Linked DNA regions of Homo sapiens: all the other regions are reported to be linked to region 5. Evidence: microRNA targets listed by miRTarBase, many of them from high-throughput screens and not tested one by one. Region 5 holds a microRNA gene; each other region holds the end of a gene's coding sequence.

Region 1 (5,101 bases), not on the chromosome of region 5:
GGCAAATTTTTCTTTTTTTTGAAAGACGGGGTCTCACTATGTTGCCCAGGCTGGTCTCAAACTCCTGGGCTCAAGTGATCCTCCTGCCTCAGCCTCCCAAAGTGCTGGGATTACAGGCATGAGCCCAGTCTGTGGGCAATTTTTAAGCCACCACCAACACCGACACCGCAGGAAGAACAAGCTGTCCCTGGATTTGTTTCCTGGCTGCGCTGCAGTCACACCTCGCAAAGCAGCAGCACGGCAGCCTGACTGCGCTCTGCACGCTGTTACGGTGCCCCGGAGCCCCTTGAGGAGACAAGTGAGACTGTGTTTCCCAGACACCCGCTCCAAGCCCGCGGCAGAGCCAGGTGTGAGGCGTAATGAGCAAGTGAACAACGAGGGGCGGGCAGGAGAGGCCCGGGCGTGGGAATGTGCGCAAGGCAGGACTGAGAGTGAGCACCGCGGGGTGGGGGGCGGAGGGGGCGGGGGAGCTTAAGGAGCGCCCAGGCAAGAGCCCCTACAGCCCTCAGGGCCGAGGTCTCCCACCCTGCCCCCAGTTTGCCCTCCGGCCCCAGCCGGGCGTCTCTGCTGCAGAGAAGGCGCCAACCAGGATTCCTCCAAAGAACCCGGACCCCTTCTTACCTCGGGCGTCTCCTGTCCCCATCCACAGACCAGCAATGGGATCCTCAGCGTCTTCTCCCCGGGGACCAGGCAGATCCGGCACGGCCAAAGGGTCTGCAGACCGCCCCGCGGCCAGCCGGGAGGGAGGGGCGGGCGAGCTCTCCCCGGGAGGCGGGTCCTCCCGCTCCGCGGACCTCCTGACACGGGGCGGGGTGGGCGCGGGGCAGGGGCCGCACTGAGCGGCTCAGCCCGCCACGTCTCCACGCTCTGGGCTCCTGGTCCCAGGAGAGCCCGGCCCCGCCACCCGCTTTAAGACCCCGCTAGTCACCGCGGTTCCCGCCGCAGCGCCCCGGGGCCCAAGGCTGGGCCCGCGTGAGCCCACAGCGCCCCCTGGAGGGAGGGTCCGAGGCCGCTGCTGAAGCCCCGCCTTCCTGAGGTCGGACGCGACCCGGGACCCTCCCGGGCGCCCCAGCCTTCCCCCACAACCCCACAAAGAGGGTTCTGCGGTCCCCTTTGCACACGGAAGGAAACCGAGGCTCAGAAAAGCCAGGCGACTTGACCAAGCCCGACAGCAGAGGTGGGCTGGGGGAGCCGGGGGCTGGAGAGGAGACCCAGGGTGCGGTCAGAGGAGGGGTGGAGTGGGCCGGGGTGGAACCCAGTCCTGGAGGGCAAGGGAGCTAGTCAGCTTCCAACGCCCCCCAACTCCTCCTACGGCCCTTGGCCCCTGTCTGGCCAGCTCCTTCTGGAAGACACTAGCTGTGGGCTTAGCCCTGGATCCACACCCACCCGAAGACAGGACAGTCCGCACCATGTGTGAGCCTCCTCTACCAAGACCATACCATCTCCCGGGCCCAAGGGCACAGTAACTGCCCCGGTGCAGCCTCTCCCTCCCAAATTGTCCCTTGATGCTATATTTTTGCTTTGATGGCAATGTGTTTGTTATGAACTATTTGTGTTCCTCCAAAATTTGCATTTTGAAATCTCAGCCCCCCAAGCTGATGGTATCAGGAGAGGGGGGCCTTTGGGAGATGACAGGTCATGACGGCAGAGCCCTCCTGAATGGGATGAGTGCCTTTAGGAAAGGCACGCTCTCCAGCTGTCAAACCCATGTCATGACATAGTGAGAAGATGGCCCTCTGCAGCCTGGGAGCGGGTCTTCCCCGGAACCTGACCGTGCCTGCACCTGATCTCAGATCTCCAGCCTCCAGAACCATGAGAAATAAACATCTGATGTCTCTATTGCCACTGAGTCTATGGTACTTTGCTATAGCAGTCCAGGATAAGACAGTGTCTGTCATTCAAACCTACAGAAAATCCTACAGAACTTGCCCATCTGCCCATGCCCTGGAGACGAGTACTTGGACTGGAGTGTGCCCGTGCCCACCCTCCAAAGCTGCTCTGTTTTGCAGGTCGGCCTGGGCTGAACTGGGCCAAACAGGAACCAGGAGGCAGATGTCCATGGCAAGAGTGTACCCAGCCCTAGAGGAGGCCGTCTGCTCATCCTTCACCAAAACTCCCCTCAGATCTGCTCAAGGAAGGGGAAATGAGCAGGAGCAGGGGTTCTTCTGAGATGAAATGGGGGTAAGAAAACCCTGCAACCTGGGTGGGAGCAGCACCCTCCCACTGTATCCTCAGGAAACCTCTCTTTCCAGGGGGCAGGGGAGAGGTGCAGCCATCGGTTGTTTAGAGAGAAACCGTGTGTGCTGAAGAAAAGGTAACAGCCCGGCCAACACACCATTAACTGGCTTCAACTCTCCCCAGGGTTGCAGCCTCCTGGGGGACGTTTCACTGAGGGCAGAGCCCAGCCTGTTGAGCAGCACAGGACAGGTACAAGAATTCAGCCTAAACCCATAGCCTCCTCCCACCCACGTGCCAATCCCAGAAAAGTCACTCCAGAAGCAAATCCCCAGGTGGCAGGAGCCAGAAACACTGGTTACAAAGAATACCCAGCCAGTGAGCAGGTGTTTATTAGGGTCCTTTTTCATTACCCCAGAGACAGACCCAGGGCTGGCTACGTGCACAGGAAGTAACGCTTGCCACATGCATAAATACGTGAAGGTGCACATTACATCAGCACAGATTCACAAAACACCTCGCCTTGGCAAGAAAACTGTAGCTAGGCAGCTCCCGTCCTCAGGGACTCCTGCCACAGACGTCATGGAGACAGCATGAGCCTCCCCAGAACAGTCCCCACGGCCTAGACTCCCCAGAGCAGGAGGAGCAGCCCAGGCTCTGTTGCGAGACAGCCATCACTTCCTGTTCTTTGCAGGTGCCTAAGGTAGGTTACCTGGCCAAGGTTTTGGTGGAAAAAATGAGTTTTTTCAATGTTGCAGGTCTTTTAATAGTTCATCTGTAGGAAGTGCATTTGCAAAGTCACCAACCTGCAGCTTCCATCTGTAGACCAGGAAGGGTGATTCTCTGGGTGACCACAGCGGGGCATCCCCTGAGGTACAGACGCCCCCCCCCCAACCCCCGCAGTGTCCTCACAGCCACCACAGCCTTTGCAGTTTGGCTCAAGCAAGCCCTGCCAGGCCCCACCCCTCATGCTGGCTCTGCTGTGAAGCCATCCTCCCGTTGGGCAGCAAGCTCAGGCCCTACACAGAGCCATCTTGAGGCTTGTAAATGAAGCAGGCGTCCCCAGAGCAGGACTCTGCTGTGGCCACCAGCTTCTCCTTCCACACAGCTTCCCCCGCAACACAGCACGGCCACTGACCTCTGGCTTCAAGCAAAGGAGAGGCTGTGAGGGGAGCCTTGGGAGGATGTGGGGACCCCCAGAGAATCTTCTCCCACCCAAACAGAGCAGTCAAGACCAGGAAAACGAGGCCTCCACTTTGTGAACAGAGCTGCCCATGTGGTCACGCGGCGCCTTCGTCCTGAGACACCTGCCCCACACTGAGAAGCAGGGCTGGGTTGACGGTCCACAGCATGATAGTTCATTGCACCGCTGGAGGGAATGGGCCAGGGCCTCTCGCTGGTCTCCTGAAGGGAAATGGGGGTTGGGCCCAGAGTCAAGCTGCAGTCAGGGATGAGGCCTGCACCGTGCAGCACACAGAAAACCTTCAGAGGTGCGGCTGGCCCAGGGCCAGCTCGGGGTCTGCAGCCAGGGACTGCCAGCCCCCACCTGGACACTTTCTCCTGGGGTGGCCCCGGCTGCACAGGTGGAGTCGGAACAGGCAAGTCCTCCAGGTGGCAGCTCCAAGCTCAGGGCAAGTCCCACCCCAAAGAAAAGCTGCCTGCTGCACTTCCCGGGCAGTGCCAAGCCTGTCCAGCTGCCCTGAGGAGACGTCACAGGGCTGAAGGCAGCTGGAGCCCTGCCATGCAAACAGCACACAGCACATGGGGGGCACAGGATGACACAGCTGCTGCTCCTCCTCCGGGTGCCTGCCCACCCAGGGTTCTGCCAACGCAGCAGCAGAGAGGCCAAGAGTCACATGAAGCACGGGGAGGGAGGGGCACGGGCTCCAGTCACGGCCGTCCACCAGCATGTCAGCTGCTTCCAGGTAGGTCCTTGTGTCCCCTCGGCCCTGCACCAGGAGGGCAGCTTTAGTCTGTCTGGGGCCATGGAGGTGGCCCTAATGCTTTGACCTGTCCCATGATGTCACTAGGTCCTCCTCTGGGACCGAGCATCCCTGGCCCACAGGGAAAAGCCCATCCCAGGCTCTGGATGCTCAGGGCCCAGGGTGTGTCCGCCTAGAGAGCAGTGACCTGTGTGAGCTCTGTGTTGGGCGTAGATGGGCTCTGCGGGCTGACAGGCACCATGGGCAGGTCCACGCCTAGTCATGCGGGCCGCGGTACCGTCTCAGAGGTCTTGCAGGCCAGGGCCACGTCCTTGGCAATGCTGCGCACGCGGTCAGACACCTGCACGTCCCGGCGCAGGGCAGATGCACAGCAGAACTTGCGGAAGCAGGCCTTGAAGTTCTCATCCAGGAAGGCGTAGAGGATGGGGTTGAGGCAGCTGTTGACGTAGCCCAGGGCCGTGCAGAAGCGCAGAATGGCCACGGCAGTCTCGCTGCTCGGCTGAACCCCCAGCCCTTGGGCCAGCACGAAGACCTGGACAGGCGTCCAGCAGCCCACGAACACAGCCACTACCACCAGCACCAGCCGAGTGATGCGCCGCAGGTTCCGGTCCTTCTCTCGGGAGCCCGAGAGCAGGCGGACTCCACGGAGCCGCCGGATCATGAGGCTGTAGCAGACAGAGATGACGAGCACGGGGACGATGAAGGAGAAGAGGAAGATGCAGATGGCAAACACCGGGCCCCAGTAATCCTGAGGGGTAGGGATCTCCACCAGGCACTCGATCTCTGCAGGGAGAGAAACGGGGTCAGAGTGGGCCCAGGAGACGTGGAGGGCACGTGGGCCCAGAGGAGCCACCCGGGAGCCAGGGAGCCTGGTGAGGGGAGGAGGGGACACCCCACTGACCTTCATCCTCGACCTGTGCCGAGCCCATGATGGCAACGGGAACACCGACAACAGAGGCCAGGGCCCAGATGGCCACATTGAC
Region 2 (5,101 bases), not on the chromosome of region 5:
CCTGCATGTCTTTCTGCTTCTGGGGTGCGTTCCTGCCCTCTTCAACTATCCCAAGCAATGGACCTACGTTACTTTTCTAACTAACTAGGGGAACAATTATTTATGAAGTAGGGTGAGGGTCTATGAAGCCCAGAGTAGGGACTGCTCATAAGCACCTTCCAATGAGCACCGGGGCTAAGCCTTCCACCCGCGCACTCCGCATCTTCCACCGAGTTCCCAGGTGGAGGAGGAGGAGGAGGAGGAGAAGGAGGAGGAGGGGGAGGGGGAGGGGGAGGGGAGGGGGAGGGGGAGGGAGAGGGGGAGGAGGCGGCGGTGGAAGAGGAAGCAAATGGTGGGGGCGGGGGGCGGAGGGGAGGGCTGCCGCGCTCACGTTTTTAAATTTTATTGTCCTTCCCCAACAGAAACGTGAATGTGACAGTCACTCCGTTGTTGAGCCATTTGTTTAGCTGTAAAAGCAGGATGGCTGTTCTCGCGTCCCGTGCGCGCTGTGCCCCTGTGCCCTTCACATTCTTTCTCATCGCAGGTGTGGTTCCAGAACCGCAGGACCAAGTGGCGGAAGAAGAGCGCCCTGGAGCCCTCGTCCTCCACGCCCCGGGCCCCGGGCGGCGCGGGTGCAGGCGCAGGCGGGGACCGCGCACCCTCGGAGAACGAGGACGACGAGTACAACAAGCCGCTGGACCCCGACTCGGACGACGAGAAGATCCGCCTGCTGCTGCGCAAGCACCGCGCCGCCTTCTCGGTGCTCAGCCTGGGAGCGCACAGCGTCTGACGCCCGCCGTCCAGGCCCGGGATCCTGGCTGCAGCCTGCGGGGGGACGCCGAGGAGCCTACCTTCCCCTCCCCTTCCCCACGCTCCTGGGGGCGCAGGGACTGAGTCTTTCTTTGGATGAGGGGCGCGTGGAGGAGGAGCAGCAGGTGCAGGGGAGGAGGAGGGGAGGCGGGGGAGGAGGAGGAAAAGGAGGGAAAGGGGACAGGCATCCTAGCTAAGGGAGGAGGAGGCCAGGAGGGAGGCACAGCACTCCTGAGACCTGGAAGCCGCTGCCCCTTGCACCTCCTCGGGCCTCGCCTGCCAGTTCTGCAGATTCACAAGTGGACAGAGGACTAAAATGACCAGGCTCTGCAGCCAAGAAACTGGCTGTGGGGTCCCAGACATGCCACTGTGATCCAGCTGTTGGGGCGGGGGGAGTGGGCAGGACTTCCCAGGGAGGGAGGCAGCTGGCTGGGGAGTCAGAAGTCCAGAGTCTTGGGCCCCAAGCCAGCTGCTGGCTGCAGAAGAAAAGACAGGTGAGTGGCCAGGTGCACTCCTCAGACCTGTGCACAGGAAGGGTCCCACTGGAGGGGCCAGAGCTGAGCACCTAACCCAGGCTGCAGGAAATCTGCCTCCAGGAGGGGAAGTGGGACATCCCAGTGGAGAAAAAATGCCCCTGACACTGCAGGATGACGGCCCCTGAGCTGCGGAAATCCCCCTGGCCTCCTTTCTCCGATTTACCCTCAGGGTCAATACCTCTGAGACCGCTGTGCCCTCCTCATCCTGACAGCCGGGGAAAAGGGGAGGGTGCAGGGAGAGGGGAGGCGGGGACGGTGTGCCCAAGGGCCACCCACCTGGGCATCATTTGGTGCTGATATAAGGACAGGCCCACCCAGAGAGAAAAAGCATCCCACCTGGGGAGGAAAGGAAGGGCTGGGAAAGACCCCAGAACGGCACCCCTCCAACAAGGCAGGAAGGGAGAAGGACAGCCCCTCCGGCTGGGTGGAGGATGCCAGGAAGGGGCTGAACCACGGCCTGCTGGGAATCACGGCCCTTCCTTTCCTCAGATCGCCTTGCGGCCTGGCACTGGAGCTGGTGCTGACAGGGACGCTGGCCAACAGGGTGGTATTTTTCACCCGGGTGATCTGAGCTGCTGGCAGGTAGGGGGTGGGCTGGGGGAGGCGGGTGAGGGCTGGTCTTAGATAGGAATGCAGCCCAGAAGGGACCAAGCACTTGCCCATCCTCACTGGCTTTCAAAAAATAAACAGTAAAAATAAAAGTCCCATGAACCTTACGGCTCCTGTGCTTCTGTGAAAGGGACCAACGGCAGGAAACTGGCTGTGAGGTCCCAGACTTGCCAGCTGTGGGGCCTTCCCCGAGGGCCGTTGTCTAGTCTCCTGGGGACATTCGTGCTCTGACAGGTTGCACAATACAAGTTATTTGAAACCTCACTGGTAGATGCCAGACACTGTCCCCAGGTGCTGAGAAACCCAAGGTGAATTTTATGGGGTCCCTGATCTCCAGGAATTTATAGCCTAGTGGGGAAGATGATCTATGTGGAGAATTGGGTATCATAAGAAAAATAAGAAGGGAGAGACTAGAAGAGCTAAGTTTAACAGAACACCTGCTAATTTCTCCCCTGTAGAATGTCTGGATTATCACTGACCCCACAAGAAAACTAGGCAGTAGGTATCATCTTCAATGCATGGAGGAGAAAACCAAAGCTCAGAAAGTTCCTAAACCAAGTCACAGAAGTGGGACGAGGCAACCTCAGAGTAGATCCCAAGGCCCTTTCAGCCACTTCCTTGGGTTGTGAAGGGCACCCTTCGAAGCCTTTTCTGTCAAATGAGAGGCTAGAACCAAAAGTAGTTTAAGGCCCTTCCAACTTCAACAATCTGTGCAACTAGCAACTAGGCTTGACCCCTTTGCTCTCCCAAGAAGTCCATCCTTGGACCCCCAGACCCCCAGGATGGGTGAACCTGGCCCTGGAACCAGCCCGAGAGGGGATGAGGGTGGAGGAAGACCCTAGCTAGGAGCATCTCAGAAAGTAGGGCACCCACCTTTCCTAAGACCCTTAGAGGACCCAGAGGACAGAGAGGAACATGACCAGAAAATGCAGAATGTGTATAAATTTCCACCCTCCATCTGTGAAGATGCCTATGCTCAGGTGTCAGTCTTTTCCCTTGAAAAGCAGAAAGGAGAAAAGAAGGGAATGGAGCACAATCTCTGTGTGCACACTGAGAAGCCGTGCTCTGTCACAAGTGTCCTGAATGGGTCCTACAGTGGCTGCAGCAGGAGAGGACCCTAGAATTCAGCACAGACTTCAAAGATAAAAAGTTTCTGTGGTTCTGGGAGGCTTGTGATTCCTGAGTGCTGCAGGCAGGAAAAGGCTATCACATAGCCCAGGTGCAAAGTCACCAAGCAGGTATGGAGGAAGATGCAAGTGACATAAAAACTGTGTTTACTTATCTTTTTCTGAAGCATGCTGTAATCTTAACTGCTCTGTTGTAGCTATAATTCCTGCATGTCTGATTCAAGTCATTTGAGGTCAGTATGAAATCAAGCCTGGGGAAAGTTTTTCCCAGGAGATATTTGCTGAGCTAAACAAAACCTCCTTTGACCTCAAAGTTCTGGGATACCTGCCACTGGAACCTTTAGCTAAAAGACTACAGCCTTCTGGGCCATTTCCTCTAATCCCACACCACCTTCCATGTGCAGACTGAACATAGGGCCAAGCACAGGAGAGGCACTGCCCCCCATTTCCCTAACAATCATGCTGAAGCATATTCAAAAGACTAGATTTGGAGTTCAAAGGAGGAGAAAACTCATATGTGGAAGACCCAGATTCCCAAGGGTCATTCAAGATAAGTCTGGCCCTCTGCAGATGCACACACATGTGAATGCATGTGCATGCCTGTGTGTGCATACATGTGTGTGTTACTTGGGAGAACACAAGGCTATCTCACTTCATCCATCATAAAGAAATCATAAGCCAGCCAGGCGTGGTGGCTCACACCTGTAATCCCAGCACTTTGGGAGGCCGAAGTGGGTGGATCACTTGAGGCCAGGAGTTCGAGACCAGCCTGGCCAACATGGTGAGAAATGGTGAAACCCTGTCTCTACTAAAAGTACAAAAATTAGCTGGGCGTGGTGGTGAGGGCTTGTAGTCCCAGATACTCAGGAGGTTGAGGTGGGAGAATTGCTTGAACCCGGGAGGTGGAGGTTGCAGTGAGCTGAGATCATGCCACTGCACTCCAGCCTGGGTGACAGAGTGAGACTGTCTCAAAAAAAAAAAAAAAAAAAAAAGAAAGAAAGAAAGAAAGAAAGAAAGAAAGAAAAAGAAAAAAAAATCATAAACTATAGGCCCCACTTTTATCCCTGCTCATAAATAGAACTTATTGTATATTCTGGGTTAAATGAACAAACATACAAAAAGCAAAAGAACTTTGGAAATGCATGCTCCCTGCAGCTCCTCTCTTACCACATCACAAACTTTTCAGAGACAAAAGGAAAGAAATTAAGTCCCACGTCCATGACAGCTGTGGTGTCTGCTCTGACAGGTGGCTCCATGGGCTCCACCAAGTAGGGACGGATTCTGCCATAGCTGTCACCTTTGTGGCTTCTGCTATTAGCAGGACCTGGGATATGTCTTCAGCAGGTCGGGGCGAGGGTGGGTGGATGTCCATGCCTTACCAGGCTCACAGTGGCCATATCCTGATGGTAACAATCAGAAAGTAGACAAAGAGGCCGGGTGTAGTGGCTCATGCCTATAATCCCAGCACTTTGGGGGGCCAAAGTGGGCGGATCAGCTGAGATCAGGAGTTGGAGCCTAGCCTGGGCAACATGGTGAAACCTCGTCTCTACTAAAAATACAAAAATTAGCTGGGCGTGATGGCAGGTGCCTGTAATCCCAGCTACTGGGGAGGCTGAGGTAGAAGAATCACTTGAACCCAGGAGGCGGAGGTTGCAGTGAGCCGAGATGACTCCACTGCACTCCAGCCTGGGCAAAAGAAAGGTGACAAAGGGCTGAAGTCCCACTTCTGGTAACCCCTCCTCATCCTCGGGCCACCCCTAGGTTTTGACCCCAGAAACCAGCTGTCCCCGCAGCATGGGTTAGGGGAAAGGAGTCAGTTAGATATGGGCTCAAACCATAGCTCCACCACTCTCTGTATCATTGGGCCAGTTACTTAACCTCTGAGCCTCGGTTTACTCATCTATAAAATAGGAATAATTCCACACACCTTGCAGGGTTTCTGTGAGATTAGAACTAATGCATGTGCCTGGCATACACAGACAGTAAACAGTAGCCCTGTATTATTCAGAGAAGGCTTTGATGTGAGTGTCAGTGTCCCCT
Region 3 (5,088 bases), not on the chromosome of region 5:
TTAAAGCCACGGAGAAGCCTCTCATCTTATGGCATTGACAAAGAGAAGACCATCCACCTTACCCTGAAAGTGGTGAAGCCCAGTGATGAGGAGCTGCCCTTGTTTCTTGTGGAGTCAGGTGATGAGGCAAAGAGGCACCTCCTCCAGGTGCGAAGGTCCAGCTCAGTGGCACAAGTGAAAGCAATGATCGAGACTAAGACGGGTATAATCCCTGAGACCCAGATTGTGACTTGCAATGGAAAGAGACTGGAAGATGGGAAGATGATGGCAGATTACGGCATCAGAAAGGGCAACTTACTCTTCCTGGCATGTTATTGTATTGGAGGGTGACCACCCTGGGCATGGGGTGTTGGCAGGGGTCAAAAAGCTTATTTCTTTTAATCTCTTACTCAACGAACACATCTTCTGATGATTTCCCAAAATTAATGAGAATGAGATGAGTAGAGTAAGATTTGGGTGGGATGGGTAGGATGAAGTATATTGCCCAACTCTATGTTTCTTTGATTCTAACACAATTAATTAAGTGACATGATTTTTACTAATGTATTACTGAGACTAGTAAATAAATTTTTAAGGCAAAATAGAGCATTCAAAGCCAGCTTGGAATTTAATTCTGTCTTGATACCTTGTTATTTATGCAAAAACTCCTATCTCCTTTCCTTTATGACAAGAGAGTAAGTTTTAGGTTGGGATCCATGTTCTACTGATTTCTGTATTTCTGTCTTTGTTAAGTCCAGTGCTTTATTTATATCACTCAATAATGGTTGAACCAAATTGAATTTCTACTTATAGAGCATAGTGAAATGATATTTTATAAAATGAATTAGTTGCTCTGACATGATCACAATCAAATTACTAAACATTTTAGAAACTAAATTAAACTCCTTCCCCCCTCTTCTCCTTTAAAGCTATTTGTATGAAATGAAGTCTGGCACCATGCCCCCTTTTATTCTCTATGTCTCACACCCAACTAAAATAGTTATTATTTCTGGGGATGATGGTGGGCAAGGAAAGGTATTTTCCACAGGGATCTAGCAATTCTGTTTAACTAGTGGGGATTCCTAGGGGTAGATGGACATTGGGAGCGAACAAACTTTCTAAAGCTGGGGGACTGTGGACCACCCTCTCTCCTACCTGCCTTAGGGTCTAGCAGGTCTTCTCCAGGATGAGGGCGCCAGTCTGGGTGAGGGTGGGTGAGGAGCTGGCTTCTGGGTTGACCTCAATATTCTGCTCAGGTTCTGCTGATTGAGCATTTTCCTCTCTTCTTTTTTTCATGAGGAGATCCCTGTTCCTGTCTTGAGAACTTGAGTCCCTTCCTCCATCTTCCTCCCTCCATTTACTCCTCTCTCTGACTCTCTCTCTTGCTCTCTCTCTCATGACTCACTACTGATCACCTGTGAGTTTTTTTCACGGGCTGAGACGTGCCCGCCTTCTTCCACACTCATCCTAGTTCCTTGTTTCTTTAAAACTTGCTCAAGAACCAACTCCTGCAGGGGGGTTTCCAGTCTTAACCCCACTCAGCAAAATTCACCACCATTTATGGGCTTTCCTCATCACATTTATGGGTGAAATGCCCCGGGGAGGGCACTGGTCATCTGGCCAGGTCTGCACTAAGTTGGACTGATTTCTGAGAATAGAGTCCATGGTCGCTTTTTCTGGATGTACCCTCTCCTGCAGGGTAGGGACTATGATTTTCTTGTCAACTTGAGACTTCTGATTGCAGAGACCAAGAGGTCTTCCATGGTCTTCCATCAGATAGGGAGGAAGCTAAAGGCGAGCATCACGTCCATCATTTTCCCTGCGCGTGGAGTTGTGAGGGGTAGGTTTTCCTTCCCTAAACCTGAGTATATAGAGGATTTAGGGATTTTCCCTCAAGAACTAAACATTTCCTCACGGGAGGAAAACATATCCCCCATTGGACTCCTTAGGACAAATCTTGCAGATTATCATACAAAAATGAACAGCCTGAAGTCTAAACTGACTCACTAAGGGGTATTTCCATCCTTGGGTTCTGGCTTAATACTTTCTCCCCTCCCCAACTACTCACTGCCCAGCCTGGCCTCTCCCCAGACTCCGCAGCAGCCTCCTCGCTGCCCCCTTCACTTTCTTATTCCTGAGGGTGTAGATGAGCGGGTTGAGAGCAGGTGTGACCACGGTGTAGAAGAGCGATACGAACTTGCCCCGTGCCTGGTTGTAGCGCTGCGCGGGCTGCAGGTAGGTGTAGATGGCCGAGCCGTAGAACAGGCAGACGGCTGTCAGGTGGGACCCACACGTGCCCACCGCCCTCCTCCGGCCTCCGCTGAACCGCATGCAACAGACAGCTCGGGCCACGGCACCGTAGGAGGCCAGGATGACGGCAAACGGCAGCAGCAGGATGACCACGCGGGCGGCGAACATCTGGTTCTCGGTAGTGTCTCCGTCGCCTCCGCAGGCCAGCTTGAGCAACGCCGGCAGCTCACAGATGAAGTGGTCCAGCAGGCGGGGCGCGCACAGCGGCCGCTCAGCCAGGAGCGCGGTTTGCGCAACCGAGTTGGTGAGGCCGCTTAGCCAGGAGGCGCTGGCCAGCGTGCGACATAGGCGCGGGGAGACGAGCCCCGCATAGCGCAGCGGGCGGCACACTGCGGCCGCGCGGTCCAGAGCCATCACCGCCAGGAGGACGCATTCGGCGGAACCCAGAGCCAGCGATGCGCACAGCTGGGCCGTGCAGTGGCTGCGCGGCAGCCAGAGCGCTGGTCCGCGCAGGTTGGCCAGCAGCGGCGGCACCACGCTAGTAGTGAAGCCCGCGTCTACCAAGGCCAGGTGGCAGAGGAAGTAGTACATGGGCGTGTGCAGGCGCGGGTCGCGCACCGCCAGCAGCACCAGCGCCGAGTTGCCCGTCAAGGTCAGGAGGTAGCACAGGAGGACAAGGGCGAAGAGGACCGGCTGCAGGGAAGGCCAGTCGGAGAAACCCAGCAGGAGAAAGCGCTCCTCTGCGCTGTAGTTGGCCTAAAGGAGGAAAACTCCCAGAATGTTTGGAAGGTCGAAATAAAAAAGGGTGACTACCCCTTATAAGCAAAGGGAAAACCTTGGAGTGTGGGGCTGGGCTGGGAGAAGGAATGGAATCATATACAAGGTCAGTTTGTGGATTGTAATCCCATTTACAGATGAGATTACTTAAAAATAAACTCCCTAAGAATAAGAGCAACACTCCAAGCTTGGCCTGGCCAACACTCGGTAGGCAGAATGATCACCTCCGTTGTTTCAGGTACTCTGTGTTTATTTATGCAACAGTTCATGTAAAATGGAGACGAGGCCAGAAGAATCCTTGAGCAGACAGAGCCAGTTGGGCCTCCTAAGTGACCTTAACCTTGCTTGATTTGCAAGCATGTCTGAAACTTTATTTGTGGTATTTCTTGTAAATGCCTATGTTAAAGAAACACAGAACTTAAGCTCAACCAATCAGAAGCAGCCAACAAAAACGTAATTAGTAACTAGGACTTCCTCATGGGATAGACCAAATAAGGCAACTGTATAACTGTGTAACTGTATAACTGTAACCAATGAAATATTATCTTTGCTTTTATCTATTTGTCCTAAAAAGCCTCCTCCTCATGTTCTCTCTGGGGAGCTCCCTAGCCACTTCTGGATCACTGCTCAAATAAACTCTTAAATATTTTATTGGGCCTTAGTTTACTTTCTAACACAACCCATTATACGGCTGATTACTGATTTTTAATTTGTTGTGAATAGAGACTACTCCCAACGTCCATGCCCCTCCCACTGAGGGGAGATCAGCACACGTATACTAGCCTTTAAATCAGGAATAAGTTGGGTAGAAAAAAAGAACACTTTCTGGTAGACTAGAATATCAGGACATCTTGGTTTTACCTACATAGCTCCCTTTAGCCAGTTATATGATATGGGGAAATCTTCATTTCCCTCTGTCTCAATTTTTTCATATGTAAATCAAGGAGTTTGAACTAGATGTCATCTAAGTTTCCTGTCCCAAATCCTTGGCTTTACTATCAAATATTAATCCAAAAATAAAATAAAAAGAGAACCCCAGGGAACAAAAGGAACCTCATTCTCCAAGGGTCTTGTTGAACCAAGTGTCTTAATGGTACAGAAACATATGGGTTATGTAATGGATGAAAGTTTACGTGATGGACAGAAATCTTTCTGCTGCATGACTCCTGACATAAATTATTATATGGATAACTTATTTTTCACATCATATTCACTGCTGTAAATTACAAAATCACAATAACCTAATTTTTCATTTTTCAGAGGGAAAAAACACTGCTCCCTACCAAAACATCCTGTTTGATTTTATGTTTCACTCATTTTATCCTCACTGGGCAGAATAAGCATTAATGTCATAATTAAGAACCAGGGCTCAGCAGCCAGACTGCCTGGGTTTGAGTCCTGGCTCTGCCATTTTCTAGCTGGAAAACCTTGGGTATGTTACTTAGCCTCTCTCTGCCTCAGTTTCCTCATATGAAAATAGAAATATGTTAAGTGGGCTAAATATGAAAAGCTGTTAGAACAAGGCCTGGCACATAGCAGTTGTTAACTGTCATCCTTTAATAAATGCTAACTATCGTCATATCTGTTTCCCAAATTAAGAAACAGGTTTTTAAGGGGTTCTTATGCTAGGCAGTGATACAACTGCTATGAACATTTACAGCTCTTTTCATTTATTAACTCTAATCTTAACTCACTTGAATATTAGGCAATAGCCTTATTTTATAGAGTATGTTAGGAGAGTAACTGAAGTTAAATTACTTGCCCAAGGCCACATTATTTGTAAATGCTTAATAGGTTTTCCACTTATATTTGACTAACTTCGAGGTCCTTCCTGTTTGATCAACCAGGATCCACTGTGCTAGAGACTGTGGAGTATGAAAGGACATGCAAAGTCTTACCTATATTTATAGATCATTTTATAATTTGGGGTCATATCAGAGATGAATAAAGTAGGAGAGGTGACATTCAGGCTTACAGACCAATGGTGGCTAGAGATGTTGAGTTACAAAAGGTCAAATTCTTTAATGCGGTGATTACACGGACACATAACTGTTCAGCCTGGCAAGCTCTAAACCATTCCTC
Region 4 (5,101 bases), not on the chromosome of region 5:
CTATGGATGCAGTCAATGTGCAAAAACCTTTAGTTTGAAGTCCCAGCTCATTGTACATCAGAGAAGTCACACAGGAGTAAAACCATATGGATGCAGTGAGTGTGGGAAAGCCTTCAGGAGCAAGTCATACCTTATTATACATATGAGAACTCATACAGGAGAGAAACCACATGAGTGCAGGGAATGCGGGAAATCCTTTAGTTTCAATTCACAACTCATTGTGCATCAGAGAATTCACACAGGAGAAAATCCCTATGAATGCAGTGAATGTGGGAAAGCCTTTAATAGGAAAGACCAGCTCATTTCACATCAGCGAACTCATGCAGGGGAAAAGCCTTATGGGTGCAGTGAATGTGGGAAAGCTTTTAGCAGCAAGTCATACCTAATTATACACATGAGAACTCATTCAGGTGAAAAACCATATGAATGTAATGAATGTGGGAAAGCCTTCATTTGGAAATCACTACTCATTGTACATGAGCGAACTCATGCAGGGGTCAACCCTTATAAATGCAGTCAATGTGAGAAATCCTTCAGTGGGAAATTACGCCTTCTTGTACACCAGAGAATGCACACAAGAGAGAAACCATATGAATGCAGTGAGTGTGGAAAAGCCTTCATTAGGAATTCTCAACTCATTGTACATCAAAGAACTCATTCAGGAGAGAAACCCTATGGGTGCAATGAATGTGGGAAAACCTTCTCTCAAAAATCAATTCTCAGTGCACATCAGAGAACACATACAGGAGAGAAGCCTTGTAAGTGCACTGAATGTGGGAAAGCCTTTTGTTGGAAGTCACAGCTCATTATGCATCAGAGAACTCATGTAGATGACAAACATTGATAATTTTACGAAACTCTGAAAAGTGGATTCACAAGAGATAGAAACAATCATATATAAAGAGAAACTCTGTAAGTGGAATCATCTTGTCATCTTCCAGAAAACTCATACTGAATAGAAACTTTATGAATGCACAGCATATGGAAAGGCATCCACAGAAAGCTGTTCTTTACATGCAAAAAGATAGTAGACAATACACAGGAAAACTGAATTTAGTAACCACTCTGAAAATTTTTAGCAGCAAGTCATACCTTTTTTTAAAAAGTTCATACAGGTGAGGAACCATGTTAAACGTTGTAAAGTCATTTTACTAAAATAAGATTCACAAAGAGGAAACTTCATGAACCAGATGAATATAGAATAGACTTCTTTGAAATTCATAGTTTACAGAATTTTAATGAGAGAAATTATTGAGCTAATGAATGGCAGAATTAACAAAATTACAAACATTTTATGTATCGGAAGCATATACCTTGGAGGGACCATGCTATAAGGGAAAGTGTAAATCTAGAAATGAGAAACCCCTAGGGAAAAAATATATATAGGAGTGAACATCTTATGAATGTACCAAATAAACCACAGCTGGACTGTTAACCTCACCTTAGAAGCTTCATTCTAAAAAAAAAAAAAAAAAAAAAAAAAAAAACCAACCTGTTATTATATCTTAATATTAATTTTGAAGAATTATTTCTTTTAGGAATCATTTTAAGAAATTTTATTCCAGGTGTTCCAAAATTTCAGGAAAAGGTTTGAGAAAATTCTCAATTATAAATAATAAGATACAGATTATTTCATTGTACAAGTGAATCTAGTAAGGAGGTTAAGAATAAGAAATAACATCCCAGAGCCTACAGGGATATTTAGATATCTTCCTATGTGTACTACATAATATGAATTTTGCAGTTTGGCATTTTACTTGCGAATGCCATATGTGAGACAAAAATCATCTTCCAGAGATTTCAGTATCTCTGATACTGACAATATCTCTGATATGACAATATCATCTTCCAGAGATTTCTACTCTGCATACCAACATTGTTTCTTTGTGTCTTACCAAATGCAACTTGTTACTAGAATATGACTTACTAAAAATGCATTTCCACACTGCAAACATTTTTTAGGGCTATCTTCTGCCCTTTGGAAGCAGTCTTGGCAGCAACCTCTTTAGTAATCAATATAAGGCACACTTCATGTGTTTGTGTAGCCTGGAATCTATTCTACCTTCACAGGTTAGAACATCTTGATTTCCTCTTAACGAAACATTCCCTAACGGTGTATGTAGTCATGAGGGAACCACCATTCAAGATGCCCTGCTCAGGACTTGGCATGAGCACTATGGTCAGCTGAGGCTCAGAACTGTACATTGTTAATGGGTTTTTCAAGTTCAGAAAAGCAACATGAGCTTTTGTTCTGTGGTAGCATGTTGATGTAATAAGTAGCTATTTCAATAGAGGTTCCCAGAACAGCTTTTGTTACTGTCATTTTCTTAACTTTGTTCACTTGTCTTTTATTTTGAGCTATTGGGTGTGCTTTTAATACATTCCTTGTTTGATTGCATTAGCCATTGTGTATCTTTTGCATACAGCTTACTAAATCAGATGGCTTCAGAAATGGGTGGTAGAGGAGTAGGCAGAAACTTGCAAGGATATGTGGATATTTGGAAATGGTTGTTTCCCAAGACAGGATGGAAGTCTTTTAAGCAAGAAACTTGGCCCATGCTATGAAGTCATGAAATGAATTGTTGGCATCATGTGCTCACTGAGGCTTTGGGGAAATGGATAAGTTGTCATTGAAAAATTTTAAACAGAATTCTGGAGTGGTCAAGAGGGGAATGCTTTTGATACCCATGTATAACATGGAGAATAATGATCTTAAAACTTCAATTTAAGATTATGTGTCAGTGATACTACTTAGTTACATGTAGCTATAGAGTCACAGTGGTGAAAAACTCTGCCAGTTGCTTACTCACAAAGTTAGTTTTCTTCACTACCTCATCAGGTTTGTTATGTGAGTGGGCATTAATCTGGGAAGAGTGGGACCCTGCCAGTTAGATTAGGGCTATCTTGGAGGAATATGCGGATTCAATACTGCAAATATTTCTGAAACACCTTCTGCTTTGTACTCTATTAGATACCCAAAGAAATTTTCATCCTTGAAGCGGAGGAATTTAATGATACCTGAATGCCTAACTGTTGTATTCTGCTTATACAGAATCCAATCTCAAGATACTTGGGGTGAAGAATGATGATTCACAGAAGGGAAGGGACATCTTACATAAACAAATAATCGCAGATACTTGCTAAAGTGTATCCCCCAATCTGGGAAATACTGTAAAGGTGTATATTATTATTGATGTACCAAAGAAGACAGAATAAATTCATAAGAGAAAGTTTATATTCAGTTTACTACTACCTAGGGTTAGATTTTAGTTTGTTGTTTTTTCAGATGCAAATCTACATGCAGCCTTGCCTGGTAGAAGCCAGAAGTGTTGACAGTATTGAGGACAGCACTCACATACTGTGGGAAAGAATAATACTTGATTAGGACTTATTATTTAATGAAATGAAAATTTTACAAAACAGAAATTGAGTTACTGGTTTGTAAATCTATCTAGTCCTTCTACCCCAGCCCCAGAAAAGAAAGACATTCCAGAGACTTTTCAGGAATAGTTATTATAAGGAAAATCCAAGGAAAAATAACCCCAATATTTTACAACTTCCCCATCAAATAGAAATTTAGGAGAAAAAATGACTTGCAAACCATATTTGTGAACATAGGTTTAAAAATCCATATTTGTGAACATAGGTTTAAAAATCCATATTTGTGAACATAGGTTTAAAAATTCTAAATGGAATTATAGCAAACCAATGTATAGCTAACAAGAAAGTCATGATATTAGGTTTAACAGACTATTAGTGGATCCAGCATCCTTTGTTCATTACCAGCAGAATCACTATTATTTATAATGGCAGTATGCCCACTTAAAAAGAGATATATGGGGCCAGGCACGGTGGCTCACACCTATAATCCCAGCACTTCAGGAGGCTGAGATGGTGGATCACCTGAGGTCAGGAGTTTGAGACCAGCCTGGCCAACATGGTGAAACCCCTCTCTACTAAAAATACAAAAAAATAGCAGGGCATGGTAACTGACACCTATAATCCCAGCTACTTGGGAGGCTGGGACGGGAGAATCACTTGAATCTAGGAGGCGGAAGTTGCAGTGAGCTGAGATCGTACCACTGTACTCCACCCTGGGTGACAGAACTAGACCCTGTCTCAAAAAACAGAAGAGTATGTTTGGAAGATTTAATATTAGAAAATATTTTAATTAACTACCAGATAAAACTCATAAGGATTATCTCAGTATATGCTGATAAATCACTTGATGGAATTTAACACCCATAGATGACACTAAAATACTATTAAGTTGGGAATTAAAATTAACTCCTGTAACTTGGTAGGGAATATATGTTCTGAAAACACAAATGTCATACTTAATGATAAAATAGTAGAAAGATTCCTTTAAAGTAAAATTAGCCAGGTGCAGTGGCTCATCCATGTAATACCAGCACTTGGGAAGGCTGAGGCTGGAGGATTGCTGGAACCCAGGAGTTCGAGACAAGCCTGACCAATATAGGGAGACCCTGTCTGTACAAAAACTTTTTAAAAAGATTAGCCAGGTGTGGTCAGGCGCCGTGGCTCATGCCTGTAATCCCAGCACTTTGGGAGGCCGAGGTGGGCAGATCACTTGAGGTCAGGATTTCAAGACCAGTGTGGCTAACATGGTGAAACCCCGTCTCTACTAAAAATACAAAAGTCAGCCAGGTGTGGTGGCACGTGCCTGTAATCCCATCTACTCGGGAGGCTGAGGCAGAAGAATTGCTTGAACCTAGGAGGTGGCAGTTGCAGTGAGCCAAGATTGCACCACTGCACTCCAGGCTGGGCGACAGAACAAGCCTCCATCTCAAAAAAAAGATCAGCCAGGTGTAGTGGCAAGTGCCGGTAGTCCCACCTACTGAGGAGGCTGAGGCAGGAGGTTAGCTTGAGTCCAGTAGTTCAAGGCTACAGTGAGCTATGATCATGCCCCTGCACTCCATCCTGGGCAACAAAGTGAGACCCTGTCTGTAAAAAACAAAGCAAAATTACAAGAATGCGCATCACTTTTATGAAATGAGTAACATCTAGCCAAGGTGTGAAAACAAGGAATGTGAGGAATTAGGGATGGGTGCAGAAACAACTGCCATGAATTGGAGATGTG
Region 5 (5,101 bases):
CCACTGCACTCCAGTCTGGGCAACAGAGCGAGACTCTGTCTCAAAAAAAAAAAAAAAAGAATTTCAGGTGGGACACGGTGGCTCACACCTGTAATCCTAACACTTTGGGAGGCCAAGGCAGGAGGATTTGTTGAGCCCAGGAGTTCGAGACCAGCCTAGACAACAAACTGAGACCCCATCTCTACAAAAAAGATAATTGGGATTACAGGTGCCCATCACCACACCCGGCTAATTTTTGTATTTTTAGTAGAGACGGGGTTTCACCATGTTAGTCAGGCTGGTCTTGAACTCCTGACCTCAGATGATCCACCTGCCTCGGCCTCCCAAAGTGCTGGGATTACAGGCGTGAGACACCACACCCAGCCTCAGATGATTTTTTTTTTTTTTTTTTTGAGACAGGGTCTTGTTTTGTCACCCAGGCTGGAGTACAGTGGTGCAATCATGGCTTACTGCAGCTTCACCCTCCCGGGCTCAAGCAATCCTCCTGCCTCAGCTACCTGAGTAGCTGGGACCACAGGCGTGTGCCACCACGCCCAGCTATTCTTTTTTTTGTGTGTGTAGAGACCCTATAGGGCACAATGTTGCCCAGGCTGGTCTCGAACTCCTGGGCTCAAGTGATCCTCTCTCCTTCCCTCCCAAGGTGCTGGGATTACAGGTGTGAGCCACTGTACCCAACCTTCTTCAGATGATTAGGATGCATGCTAAAGTCTGACCACCACTGTTCTTTCTGAAATATTTTTTCTACCTCATTTCAGCCTCCTAATTCCTACTCCTTCTTCCCTGCAAATGTCACTTCATCAGAGGTGCTAGACCCTGGGCTAGATTAAACCCCTCACTCTCCAAGTCTCTCTTTTTTTTTAGACAGAGTCTCACTCTTTGGCCTGGGCTGCAGTGCAGTGGTGCGATGCCCAATTCTCCTGCCTCAGCCTCCTGAGTAGCTGGGACTACAAGCGTGTGCCACCACACCCGACTAAGTTTTGTATTTTTAGTAGAGACAGGGTTTCGCCATGTTAGTCAGGCTGGTCTCGAACTCCTGACCTCAGGTGATCCGCCCACCTCGGCCTCCCAAAGTTCTGGGATTACAGGTGTGAGCCACTGCGCCTGGCCTCTCCAATTTTCTTCTGTGAGTTCCTCAGTTCATGTCTCCCTGATAGATTTTGAGTTCTAGGTGTGTCCGTCTCATTCTCCATCTTGTCCTGAGTGCTAAGCAGGGCAAACAGTAGGCACATAATAAGTGAGAGTGGAATTGCATTGGCTCACAGGGTCACCAAAGGAATGGAGATGTGGGGCCTGCAGGCATCACGAAGGAGTCTAGGGGAGCTAGGGAGAAAAGGCTAATCATAGGCCACCCACTCGCCCTCTAGGTACAGCCTGTACACCCGCACCTGGCTCGGGTACCTCTTCTACCGACAGCAGCTGCGCAGGGCTCGGAATCGCTACCCTAAAGGCCACTCGAAAACCCAGCCCCGCCTCTTCAATGGTGAGCTCTGACTGCCCCGGCCAGCATCCCCCATTCTGTGCCCCCACCCTCCCCGCCTGCTCCCCTTCACATACCCCAGCCCCTGGGCTCCCTGCCTGTTACCCCGCCCACAGCCCATCTCTGTCCCCAGGAGTGAAGGTGCTTCCCATCCCTGTCCTCTCGGACAACTACAGCTACCTCATCATCGACACCCAGGCCCAGCTGGCTGTGGCTGTGGACCCTTCAGACCCTCGGGCTGTGCAGGTGAGGGGAGGGCAGGGAGCAGGGGGTGCCTGGAGTCACCTTGGGGACTGGCAGTTTCGCCTTGCTAGAGAGGGCTGACCCTTGTCCGTCTGCCCGTGGGATGTGTCCCATATGCTCCATGTTCACACGTGCACATGCGCACACATAGCCTGGGGAAGGGGGGTACAGGGCATGGCTGGGCAGAAGGGGAGAGCAGGAGTGGGGGATGCAGAGCCAGAGGGCTGGGGGTGTTGGCCCAGGACTCTGGGTCTAGTGAGTTTCCAGGCTGGCTTTCACTCCCATTGGCCCCCTTCAGACCCCCTTTCTTTCTGTCACCTCTGTCTGTCAGTATCTGGGTCTCTCTGTCTTTCCCTCCCATTCCTTATCTCTCTGTGTCTGCCTCTCTCTATGTACAAGTGTCCCTCTGCCTCCATGTGCCCCGTGCTTCACATTCCTGGATCTCTCCCCTCCAGCTCCATCCCTTTCCTCTGCTTCATCTCTCCATGCTCTCCTCTCCTCTCCACCAGCGCCCACACTCCTGGCTCTTGCTGCTTCAAGTGCCTCTTGCATCCTGCTCCCCAGTCTCCAAACCTCCTCTCTCTCGCAGGCTTCCATTGAAAAGGAAGGGGTCACCTTGGTCGCCATTCTGTGTACTCACAAGCACTGGTAAGGGGCTCCCGTCTTCCCTGGCCCACCCTTGTCCCAGCTGGGCTTGCCAGGACTGGGCCCATTGAGGACGGCCGGGGCCAGAGATCAAGAAGTCAGTACGGGCCGGCACCCGCCTTCCTCGTGAAGTCACCTGGACACCAGCAGGGAGGGAGGAGAGGGGACAGTCTCCCACCACTCCATTGATCAAGCTTCTGAAGCCCCAGAGGGCAGGGCAGTCATTTCTCTTTCATTTCATGGGCATGTATTAGATACCTACTGCACACTGGGCATGGACAAAAGTTATGACTCTTCCATCAAGGAAATTCTAAGACCAATAGGGGAGGTAGCCCTGTATCAAAGTATATAACAGCGGAGGCAAGAGGGTTGGGAGTTCAAGCCCAACCTGGGCAACATAGTGAGACCTTGTCTTCAAAAAAGAAGTATGTGATATTTAGGTAACAGTTGGCACAGGGAACAGGGATGGGAGGCCCAGGCACGGTGTGATCAGATCCACTTGGAGAATTGAAAGATGATGACCTGAGCTGAGGGTTCAGGAAGCTCGGCTGGCATTGGCCAGCTTGAGTTGTTGGGGGCGATGTTCTGGGCAAGGGAACAGCTTGAACAAAGGCCTAGAGGTGTGGACAACTTGGCTTAGTCCAGAAGCCACAGCCCCAGCACTTAAAGGCCTGGAGATGCTGTGGTAAAGAAGGGGGCTTAGGTACAGTTGCCCCTCGAAGCCCCCTGCCTGTCTCTGCTGTCCTGCAGGGACCACAGTGGAGGGAACCGTGACCTCAGCCGGCGGCACCGGGACTGTCGGGTGTACGGGAGCCCTCAGGACGGCATCCCCTACCTCACCCAGTAAGTCCCTGACCTAGGCAAGGGATGGCCCTTCCATGGGCCCTTTCCCCCACCCCCAGCCTTCAGTGAAGTGTTTCAGGGGTATCAGCAGGTGGATCTTTGCCAGTGCCCTTCCTGGCCCAATCCCAGCCTATCTGAAGACTGGCACTGCCCATCCCCCAACTGATCCAGCCATAGTCCCCAAAAGAGGAAAGGGGGAGGGTTCGGACCTGAGACCCGAGGCACTGGGGTGACTTCTTTTGTATGGAAGCCCACTCTCTTGTGAATCACCCAGCCCCTTGGGCCTGGGATGGGGACAGGGATCAGCATGGCACAGATCCAATACCTTCTGTCCCCTGCTCCCTTGTTCCCCAGTCCCCTGTGTCATCAAGATGTGGTCAGCGTGGGACGGCTTCAGATCCGGGCCCTGGCTACACCTGGCCACACACAAGGCCATCTGGTCTACCTACTGGATGGGGAGCCCTACAAGGGTCCCTCCTGCCTCTTCTCAGGGGACCTGCTCTTCCTCTCTGGCTGTGGTGAGTTTCCCCGAAAGAGAGAGGAGCTGGGAGAGGAGGGAGAGACAGAAGCCAGGGCAGCCACAGTCCCATGGAGAGCACTGAAGCCTTAGTTTTAGCACAGATGTTGCCGTGGCAGTTACTTCCATCTGTGTTACTCAGATTGGTTTTAATCCTTGAGACTTCCCTTGGGGCACCTTGGGAGGCTGAGGCAGGAGGATCACTTGAGGCTAGGAGTTGGAGACCAGACTGGGCAAAATAGCAAGACTGTCTCTACAAAAAAATTTTAAAATAGGCCAGGCGTGGTGGCTCATGCCTGTAATCCCAGCACTTTGGGAGGCTGAGGTGGGAGGATCACCTGAGGTCAGGAGTTCAAGACCAGCCTGGTCAACATGGTGAAACCCCGTCTCTACTAAAAATACAGAAATTAGCCGGGCATGGTGGTGCATGCCTGTAATCCCAGCTACTAGGGAGGCTGAGACAGGAGAACTGCTTGAACCCGAGAGGTAGAGGTTGCAGCGAGCTGAGATCGCGCCACTGCACTCCAACCTGGAAGACAGAGTGAGACTCTGTCACAAAACAGAAAAAAAAATTTAAATAATATAAATAATATAGGCCAGGAGCAGTGACTCAGGCCTGTAATCCCAGAACTCTGGGAGGCCAAAGCAAGTGGATTGCTTGAGCCCAGGAGTTCAAGACCAGCTTGGGCAACATGGTGAAACCCCGTCTCTACAAAAAATACAAAAATTAGCCAGTGTGGTGGTGAGCCCAGGAATTCAAGGTTGCAGTGAGCTATGATTGTGCCACTGCACTGCAGCCTGGGCAACAATGAGACTCTGTCTCAAAAATAAAAAAGACTTCTGCCAGCTGCGGGACAGAATGGGAGAATGTCTGTAGCTGAGTAAAGCCCTGCAGGGAATTAGTTTCCCCTGGGTGGAGACTGGTTCTCTGATACAGTGACTGGCAGGACTAGGTTATGAAAAGTTAAGAACAGCTAGGTGAGTGGGTGGGTGAGGATCACAAGTCCCAGGCTGCATGAAATCCCAAAGGGCAGCCTAGGCGAAGAAGTGTTCCGTGGGAAAGAGCAGCCCTGCGTCTACCAAGCCTGGGGCCTGCAGCCCGAAGATTCCACAGCCCCTCCCTTCAGGTGTCACTGTGTGCAACGGAGGCCTCGGATGGGCTTGGTCAGGGGGTGACCAGTTGGGCCCAGTTCCCAGTGAGGAGGGAATAGATGCCTGGGGTGGGTCTGGAAAGTGCACAGTCAGGGCTGACGGCCAGCCAGAGCATTACAAGCTGGTTCCCACCTGTCTGGGTGTGCCTTATGCCATATTGTGTTATCCTGGCACCTTGTGACATACCCTCCAACCCCCACCCAGGGCGGACCTTTGAGGGCAAT

The links. Region 5 holds the annotated microRNA hsa-miR-6810-3p (UCCCCUGCUCCCUUGUUCCCCAG, at 3,540-3,562, shown strand). A microRNA usually pairs through its seed, bases 2 to 8, with sites in the 3' UTR of a target mRNA and lowers its output. Matches are read on the target gene's strand: a 7mer-m8 pairs with bases 2 to 8, a 7mer-A1 pairs with bases 2 to 7 and ends in A, and an 8mer does both.
Region 1: the mRNA of OPRL1 is a reported target of hsa-miR-6810-3p. Seed matches in the 3' UTR shown: 7mer-A1 at 3,040-3,046.
Region 2: miRTarBase lists NKX6-3 as a target of hsa-miR-6810-3p. Seed matches in the 3' UTR shown: 8mer at 917-924.
Region 3: the mRNA of UBD is a reported target of hsa-miR-6810-3p. Seed matches in the 3' UTR shown: 7mer-m8 at 353-359.
Region 4: the mRNA of ZNF268 is a reported target of hsa-miR-6810-3p. The part of its 3' UTR that is shown has no 7-base or 8-base seed match.

What each region holds. Positions count from the first base shown.
Region 1 is chr20:64,098,076-64,103,176 of GRCh38, reverse strand. It overlaps OPRL1 (opioid related nociceptin receptor 1), which reads right to left. Exons shown (of 5, transcript NM_182647.4): 4 at 5,020-5,101; 5 at 2,544-4,901. The coding sequence ends at 4,378. Among named protein-coding and RNA genes, the nearest start is that of NPBWR2, 6.9 kb to the left of the region's middle. RefSeq lists an enhancer at 1,246-1,747.
Region 2 is chr8:41,642,117-41,647,217 of GRCh38, reverse strand. It overlaps NKX6-3 (NK6 homeobox 3), which reads left to right. Exons shown (of 3, transcript NM_001364841.2): 3 at 524-2,041. The coding sequence ends at 769. Among named protein-coding and RNA genes, the nearest start is that of NKX6-3, 6.2 kb to the left of the region's middle. RefSeq lists a silencer at 429-658 and an enhancer at 1,973-2,032.
Region 3 is chr6:29,551,122-29,556,209 of GRCh38, reverse strand. It overlaps UBD (ubiquitin like modifier D), which reads left to right. Exons shown (of 2, transcript NM_006398.4): 2 at 1-695. The coding sequence ends at 330. It overlaps OR2I1 (olfactory receptor family 2 subfamily I member 1 (gene/pseudogene)), which reads right to left. Exons shown (of 2, transcript NM_001396058.1): 2 at 1-2,985. The coding sequence ends at 2,044. Among named protein-coding and RNA genes, the nearest start is that of OR2I1, 3.3 kb to the right of the region's middle.
Region 4 is chr12:133,203,687-133,208,787 of GRCh38, forward strand. ZNF268 (zinc finger protein 268) reads left to right here. Exons shown (of 6, transcript NM_003415.3): 6 at 1-5,101. The coding sequence ends at 844. Among named protein-coding and RNA genes, the nearest start is that of ZNF268, 25 kb to the left of the region's middle.
Region 5 is chr2:218,338,419-218,343,519 of GRCh38, forward strand. MIR6810 (microRNA 6810) reads left to right here and starts at 3,493; the gene lies at 3,493-3,562. It overlaps PNKD (PNKD metallo-beta-lactamase domain containing), which reads left to right. Exons shown (of 10, transcript NM_015488.5): 3 at 1,365-1,480; 4 at 1,611-1,723; 5 at 2,310-2,368; 6 at 3,116-3,208; 7 at 3,563-3,726; 8 at 5,082-5,101. The region is part of intron 2 of CATIP-AS2 (CATIP antisense RNA 2); the gene reads right to left. RefSeq lists an enhancer at 5,100-5,101.